Homo sapiens: one gene and its partner. The protein of the gene in region 2 interacts with the protein of the main gene of each other region in a pairwise test. Each region holds a gene or a part of one and is shown on either strand. Other genes may lie near its edges. The genes, in order: STAT5A and POM121C.

Region 1 (3,777 bases), on a different chromosome or scaffold from region 2:
CAGAGATGGATCAGATTAGCCCCCTGGGGCGGTGGCACCTGCCCGTCCCCTCCCCTCCTCTCTTCTCCCACCCCCGCCTTCCCCCTGCTCTGGGCCCCCTGCACCTCCCTCTTGGGGCCCACGCGCCGCCCCTCTCCCTCGCTTGAGCTCTGAGCTCAGAAGGAACCTGCCCGCAAACCTGGCTCCCAGCCCCGCCCAGGGAGCGCGCGTCCCTGAGCCCAAGGGCCCCAGCGACAGCAGGGACTGGCTGCAGCCGGCAGTGCGGGGGTCCAGCCGGGGCGAGCCGGTCCCGCTTGCTGCACCTCCGCCTCGCACAGTCGCCGGCAGCCAGCTGAAAACAGCGCAGCCGCGTGGTGCCACCTGCTGGTCTCTGGGAAGGAGGAGGATGGGACGGTTGTTGCGGCTCTGGGACTGCCCCTGGCCCCGAGGGTTGAGAAGCATCTTGGCGCCGGGCCCTCAGCCGCCAGCTTCGAGGCTGCTGGGAGCAGCAGCTGCTAAGGAGAAGCCTGGGTCAGAGTTCTGCCCACCCGCGCCCATCTCCATCATTTCCCCAAACCTCGAGTCCCCTGCTTTTTAAGGAATCTGTGCCCCCTAAACTGGCTCCTTACCCTTCTGAGAAGCATTGACAGTATTCCAGGGGTGGCCAGCACCCTGAAAACCACAGCAAAGCGGGCAGAGTTAAAATTTAAGACTAAAAATGACAGCATCAGGCATGCACGCGGGAAGGAACAGAACAACCAGCTCCAGGGGTTCCCATCACCCAGGGAGGCCACCAACGCCCCAACCAGGAGCCATAGCAGCAAATTTATGAAAAAAATATTTTATTCCAAAACACTGTTTACACAAATGTGTGGTCTTTGTACAAAGTACAAAAAAACCCCTCTTCTCATCCCCACCTCCCTTCAGAGAAGTTTAAACCTTGGGCTCTCAATCTTCCATGGTCAGCTGCCCCTGACTGCGAGTCCTACAGCCTCAGAGGGAGGAGCGTGTGGGGTTGGGAGCAAGGCCTCACCAGAACACAGCCAGTTACGCAACAGCGCAAGGCCTGCTCCAGGCCCCACCTCCAGCGGAGTCAAACCAGATCAGCTTTTACCCCTCACTCCAGATTCCACAGGCACGCAGCACATGGCTGATTTGCAGCTTGTCTTTCACTGCAGTTTTTTGTTTTTGTTTTTTCCAGGAGGCAAGAGGACCAACCCTCCAAGTCCCGGGGCCCCTGTCCACCCACCATATCCTAGACCCAATCTTTTCTACCTCTTTGTCGACAAGGTTACAAACAGAGAGGCAAGCAAAGAAGGCTGGGGCCCAACGGAGGGGAGAGAATATATATCCCGGGAAACGTGGGCAACAGCATCATAGACTTGAATGAAGCCCAAGGCCAAGCAGCCAAGCAAGGACTAATTCAGAGCAGCTCAGAAACCCTCACTCAAACCGGCGGCCCCCCTGTGCTAAGGACATGGCCGGGCCCAGACGCGCTCTCATAGGGTTCACAGAGAGTCTGGAGTCCACGTTCACTAAAGTATAAAATACTACTCGAAAATGAACCCCAGCCTCCCTTCTGAGAGATGAATCGGTTACATCAACACATGAGGACAGATGCATTTACATAGACCCACACACTCTCTCTTTCTCTCTCTCTGTCTCTCTGTCTCTCTCTCTTAGGAGGGCAAAGCTTCTCACTCCGGAGTGAAACTTCAGCTTACAGACGTTACCTGTCTCCCCTCCCCTTCTGAATCATCTCATTCAAATAGCTGCTGAGCAGATGAGGGGCCCAGGAGGAATAGGTCTGGCTGCATTGAGTGCCTGCAGTGACAGAGGCTCGGTCTCTACCATGACAGAGACAGACTCGGCGCACTCTTGGATGCCATGATCTGAAAAGAGGCCACCGCTGCTGCAGCCACATCCCAGGACTGCACAGGGGAGGCAGGCGTAGCTCATGCACAAGGACACACACACACACACACACACAAGCACATGCATGCCTGCAAAGGTGTCAGTGTACACAGCCTTACTAAACTCACAACACGACCGCTTCACATTGCATATTGTTTCCAAAGAGAAGCGTGGGATTCAAACATTCATGAGAGGGAGCCTCTGGCAGAGGTGAAAAGACCGGCAGGGGGCGAGAGGCGGGAGTCAAGACTGTCCATTGGTCGGCGTAAGAGTTCCTCCACGTGCCTGGCCACATCCATGGTCTCATCCAGGTCGAATTCTCCATCCTGATCGAGTACATGGTCAGGGCTGGTAAAGACAGGGGGATGTCAGAGGGAGCTGGCATGTCTCACAGCCTCAAGCTCCCTGGGGACAGCCTCCAGCCTGCTCTCCACTCAAACCCGTCTCATGAGAACAGGACCAGTTCTGGCTGGATGCCCCCACCCCACCCCAAGCTGGGTAGCAGTCAGCCCACTGGCTTCTGCAGACCCCCACTCTATTCGCATCTCTTGCTAACTCACTGAATAATCTTAGGGAATTCATTTCCCCTCTCCGTGTCCTCATCTTAAAACCAGGTGGCTGACACAGTGGGCTCTGCCCACCTGCAATGATGCTCAGCTGCAATGGTAGGCACCGCCCCGTTCACTGAGCACTTAGAACAGCTGAATCTTTTCACTGAGCACCTAGAACAGCTGAGCCTATTGAGCACATGACTCCAATTTTTACAGCCAACTGGAGAGTGGGTATTGACCCCGTTTTATAGACGAGAAAACCAAGGCCATATCAGGAAGCTTGCTCTGGGCCACCTGGCTGGGAGGTGGTGGAGTCCGGATTGGAACCTGGGATCTTCAGTGGTCCCACTGGAAGGTGGTACCTCCCAGACATCCAGCCCTGGCTATCCACAGTGAGGAAGGGAATTAATTATCTACCTTGTTCCCACCAGACTCAAGAACAACCACCCCATTCATAGCTACCCTGTATCAAGCCCTTCCAAGCCCCTCCCTGTGGAAATGCTTCACCCACACTGTCTCAGTTTAATGCTCATCCCATTCTCATGAGGCAAGCATTCTTGCCTCCGTTTTACACATAAGGAAACTTGAGCATCAGAGAGGCTCAATCATTTTCCCAAGATCACACAGTTAGTACTAGAGTGAGGACTTGACCCTGCTATGTCTAGCTTCAAAATGCTCTGTTTTCCTGGCTGATCTCACTCCTCCTGGACTTGGGCCTAACCAGAGCTCTGGATCCTTTGCCCGCCAGCCCTCCAGGAGTCCAGCCTGGGGCCAAGTCCCCAGTTCTTCCCCTGCGGACCCCATGAGAACACCACCTACTTCTGTGGGTACATGTTATAGGGAGCCTGGGGGCACACAGCTGGGGAGGGGGCCTGGTCCATGTACGTGGCGCTGCTGCCCCCAGCATCTGCAGATGCATTCACAAACCTGCAGAAGGAAGAGAACAGAGCTTCAGCCACCAGGGAGGCCGGGGCAGCTGACTTGGGGAGGGGACCGAGGGGCATGTTTGTCTTTCTCGGGGTGTAGACGGACAAAGTGCCCCACTCGGCCCTGGGGCTCCAGCTACAGGAGAGGGGACTCCCTCCCCAGGGCTGAGACAGGTTCCCTGGGGGAGCGGAAAGCTGGGCCCAGGATCAGGATGGGAGGCAGGGTCTGGGGGAGGAGGAAAGAGGCAGAAGGAGAGCCACAGCCACCTGGACACTTACTCAGGGACCACTTGCTTGATCTGTGGTTTCACATATCCATCAACAGCTTTAGCTGTCAAGGGAAGAACAGTGGTGAGAACCAAAGTCTCTGGGAACTCCCAAGTGGGGTGGAAGCCCACGCCCCATGT
Region 2 (4,525 bases):
TCCACAATTATATCAACTTGAATGAAGAAATTTTTCCAAGTCCCAGAAAATCTTTTAAGTCCACAAGTAACAAAACTGGTTTCTCCTTATAATCAATGCAAACGATGTCATGGATGGTGATATGGTTTCGGTGTGTGTCGCCTCCCAAATCTCATGTTCAATTGTAATCCCCAATGTTCCCTCTTCCTCCTGCTCTGGTGATGGAAGATGCACCCACTTTCCCTTCACCTTTCACTTGACTGTAAGTTTCCTGAGGACTCCTCAGCCACGCTTCCTATGATAGAGCCTGCAGACGTGAGCCAATTAAACCTCTTTTCTTTATAAATTACCCAGTCTTGGTTATTTCTCTATAGCAGTGTGAGAATGGACTAATACAGATGGCATTTTCCTTTTGTGATGACTGCCAAGAGTATCAGTCCTAGGTGCGGCTCAATTTCAACAGCCTTAAAATATACTACCCATACATACAAGCTTCACAAATCATTTTTGGTGCTGATCTGCCACACTAACTATATTTTACAGGATAATGTCTATTTCCACATTCCCATTTTAAAGTATGAATCCTGGCTGGGCTCGGTGGCTCATGCCTGTAATCCCAGCACTTTGGGAGGCTGAGGCGGGAGGATCACCTGAGGTCAGGAGTTTGAGACCAACCTGGCCAACATAGTGAAACCCCATCTCTTCTAAAAATACAAAAAATTAGCTGGGCATGGTGGCCCACGCCTGTAATCCCTGCTACTCAGGAGGCTGAGGCAGGAGAATCACTTGAACCCAGGAGGTGGAGGTTGCAGTGAAGCGAGATCATGCCACTGCACTGCAGCCTGGGCAACAGAGCAAGACTCCATCTCAAAAAAAAGAAAAAAAAAAGTATGAATCCTTACAAACCTCTTAAAATGCATCATAAAATAAAGTTGAGGAACATATACACAAGCAGGAAAACTCACCTGCAATGTGTTCATTTTCTGCTGCTCTTGGAAACATGCAGAGACTGTGGCTGATAGACCTAGAGGGGCAGAAGCAGGTCACTGAAGTCATGAGGGCTCCGGCCTGCAAAGGCAGAAATCACCTGCATAAGAACCGCAAAAGAAAGCTCAATAGGCTAACACCCTGTGAACACTCAACCTGCAAACACTCAGAAGGGTCTAAAAGAGTGATACAGGGTTTCACCATGTTGGCCAGGCTGGTCTCAAATTCTGGCCTCAAGTGATCCGCCTGCCTGGGCCAACATGGCAAAACCCCGTCTCTACTTAAAAATAACAAAAAAAATTAGCCAGGCATAGAGTCACATGCCTGTAGTCCCAGCTACTCAGGAGGCTGAGGCACGAGAATCCTTTGAACCTGGGAGGTGGAAGTTGCAGTGAGCCGAGACCACGCTGTTGCATTCCAGACTGGGTGAGAGACACTGTCTCAAAAAAAAAAAAAAAAAAAAAAAGAGTGATAGGGGAAGCATGCGCCTGTAACTCTAAGATAATCAGGTAGTAATTAGATGAGTTAGACTCTCATGGGTAACATGACTCCTTTTACAAATAGTCTGCCATCATCATCAAATACAAGGCGCAAAAAGAAAAAAAATTCCCATTATACGGCTCATGTTTTTTGTGGTTTGTTGGTTGAGACAGGGTCTCAATCTGCCACCCAGGCTGGAGTGCAGTGGTGCATTCACGGCTCTCTGCAGCCTCGACCTCCTGGGCTCCATCCATCCTCCCACTTCAGCCTCCTGAGTAGCTGGGACCACAGATGCATCCCAGCATGCCTGGCGACTTTTGTATTTTTTGTAGTCAGGGTGTCCCCATGTTGTCTAGGCTGGTCTCTAACTCCTGGTCTCAAGGGATACTCTTGCCCTAGCCCCGCAAAATGCTCGGATTACAGGTGTGAGCCACTGCATCCCGCCCGCATTTTCTTATTGTCTCTTTAAACTGCTTAAAATAAAATAAGCCATAGGAATTGAGTATGTGAGCTCTCAGAAATGAAATGAATGTGTATAAAATATGGTTTTGTTTCTAAATTATCTAACTGAACTTGGTTATTGCTGCACCTAATAATCTTCTATTAAGAAAACTAGGATACGGGAGAAAGAACACTGGCCTGGGAGATAAGTCTCCTGGGTTCTACTATGAGCAGCTCTACCCACAAAGCCGGTGACCTGGTCAAGTCACCCACCTAAGGCCCAGTCTCTTCCCCTAGCAACTGAGGCAGCAGCAGAGAATCCCTGCAGACTGTTCCTGCATTACTACGATTCTCCCAGGGCAGGTCTAAGGGGGGGGATCAGCAGACACTTAAGTGAGAGAATAGAAGTGCTGACGGACGTTTAGAGGCGGTCGAAATCTGGAGCACGGAGAGGAGGAGGAAGGACTGTTAGGGGTTAGCGGGGAGTGGAGACGACGTCCGCAGCTGAGGGTGGTGACACCCTCCACGCCTCCGTAAGCCTCGTCCTCCCAGATCTTCCCATGCAGCACCTGTTCGGTGCAGCCGGACCCTGCCCTCAAACCCAACACATGTCTCTCCGGCAAGCAATCGGGACCCTCCCTCTGCCCCACACTCAAAGGTCCCCAACACAAGGTGACTTCACCCAGGCCCTTCTCGCTCCGGGCCCAAAAACCCAAGACTTACCCTCCTGGGGCTCCGCAGCCTCTGCCCCACGGCTCCCGAGAGGCCGGGGCGGGCTGCTGTCGCTGGCGCGCGCGTCTGCTCGCGAGGTCCCCTCCTGTCCACCTCACCAAGGCTGTTCTGCTCCCGAGGGGCCCGGGCCGGGCCTACGGGGCAAATCCAGGCGGGTGTCCTTCTCGGGGCCCAGATCCGCCTCCCTGGGGCTCCCGGCCCCTCTGGCCCCAGCGCCGCCGGCTCCGGGGTTCACGCTCGGGGGTCCCAGCTCGAGCCTCTACCCGGCCCGCGCGAACCCTGGGCCGCACAGCTCCCGCCCGCCTAGGTGCTGGTCCGGGCGGTCAGCATCCAGCCCCGCAGACTCGGTGATTCTCGTCCACTAGAAGCCAAAGCCTGGGAACGAGAGCAAGCGATGACCTGAAGAGGCACAGGAAGCGAGGGCAGTGCGGAGGTGGCGCGCATGTGCGAACACGCACGCAGGGAGAGGTGCACAAGCGCAGGAGTGCACCGGAAGTCCGCCTCCCGGGACACCCACCGCGGGTCCCAGGACAAGTAACGGACTCTATTTCCCAGGAGCCTACGCGCTCCCCCAGTTTTGGGGCCGTCTTAAATGTCTCTACCCTGCCTAAAGGTTAAGAAGCTCCAGGCTATGAGCTTTGGCAGCCCTGAACCCCGGACTGAACTTCACCTTTGTCTTTACTCCCTTTTAGGGTCAAATCCAGGGCTCCGTTACTGGGTCCTGGAGCCCAAGTCCTCTGGGTTAGAACGGAGTTTCCCATAAGGAGAAGGAAAGGAAAGGGTGTATCATGGTCACTGCTCTGAAATGCTGAGAAGTTTCACTCAAATACTGGGACAGGATAAATGCCCAGCGATGCTTTCCAAGGAACAAAAAGAAAATAGAATTTGTAGCTGGGCGCAGTGGCTCAAGCCTGTAATCCCAGCACTTTGGGAGGCCGAGGCGGGCAGATCGCGAGGTCAAGAGATAGAGATCATCCTGGCCAACATGATGAAACCCTGTCTCTACTAAAAATACAAAAATTAGCTGGGCGTGGTGGCGCGTGCCTGTAATCCCAGCTACTCGGGAGGCTAAGGCAGGAGAATCACTTGAACCTGGGAGGTGGAGGTTGCAGTGAGCCGAGATCACGCCACTGCACTCCATCCTGGCGACAAAGCGAGACTCCATAGCTTTTCTAGATCACACAGCGAATGCCTAAAAACCGTAGAGAAATAAGGACATACACACACAAACTGAACGAGGAAGAGATACCTGTGATCCTACCTTCCCCAGGAGGATTATGTTTAGGGTTAGGTTATGTTGACCAAAAAGAGTCAAAGTCTATAAAGAGTTTTATTCTGGGCCTCCTATTTGAGTGACCATGGCTGGTGACACAGCCTCAGGGGGTCCTGAGAACGTGAGCCCAAAGTAGTTGGGTTACAGCTTGGTTTTATGCATCTTAGGGAGACAGTAGTTACAGGCAAAGACATAAATCAATACATGGGAAGTATATGTTGGGTCAGCCAGGAAAGGCTTTCAGGTCACTAGTAGATTGAAAGACTGGCAGTTGGTTCAGAGTTAAGTGTTGGCTGAACAGCTGGAAGACTACATAAAGAAATGGGCCATTGCGGTGGCTCATGCCTGTATTCCCAGCATTTTGGGAGGGTGAGCTGGGAGGATCCCTTGAGGCCAGGAGTTCAAGGACAGCCTGGGCAACACAGCGAGACCCCCACTTCTACAAAAAAAAAAATAATTATCCAGGTGTGGTGGTGCATGCCTGTAGACTCAGCTACTCAGGAGGCTGAGATGGGAGGATCGCTTGAGCCTGGGAAGTTGAGGCTACAGTGAGCCATGATGGCACCACTGCATTCCAGCTTGGGCAACAGAGAAGAAAAGAAAGAGAGAGAGAGAAAAAGAGAGAGAGGAAGG

The links.
Region 1: the proteins of POM121C (region 2) and STAT5A interact in a two-hybrid assay, tested with the Homo sapiens proteins (one large-scale study listed by BioGRID and IntAct).

What each region holds. Positions count from the first base shown.
Region 1 is NC_000017.11:42,308,971-42,312,747, reverse strand, and holds the end of STAT5A (signal transducer and activator of transcription 5A), read right to left. Parts: intron 3,702-3,777; coding exon 3,650-3,701; intron 3,372-3,649; coding exon 3,264-3,371; intron 2,242-3,263; coding exon 2,079-2,241; coding exon of another isoform or gene 2,018-2,078; 3' UTR 805-2,017; downstream 1-804. UniProt on the Homo sapiens protein: Carries out a dual function: signal transduction and activation of transcription. Mediates cellular responses to the cytokine KITLG/SCF and other growth factors. Mediates cellular responses to ERBB4.
Region 2 is NC_000007.14:75,483,254-75,487,778, forward strand, and holds the start of POM121C (nuclear envelope pore membrane protein POM 121C), read right to left. Parts: upstream 3,047-4,525; 5' UTR 2,611-3,046; intron 1,067-2,610; exon of another isoform or gene 945-1,066; intron 1-944. UniProt on the Homo sapiens protein: Essential component of the nuclear pore complex (NPC). The repeat-containing domain may be involved in anchoring components of the pore complex to the pore membrane. When overexpressed in cells induces the formation of cytoplasmic annulate lamellae (AL).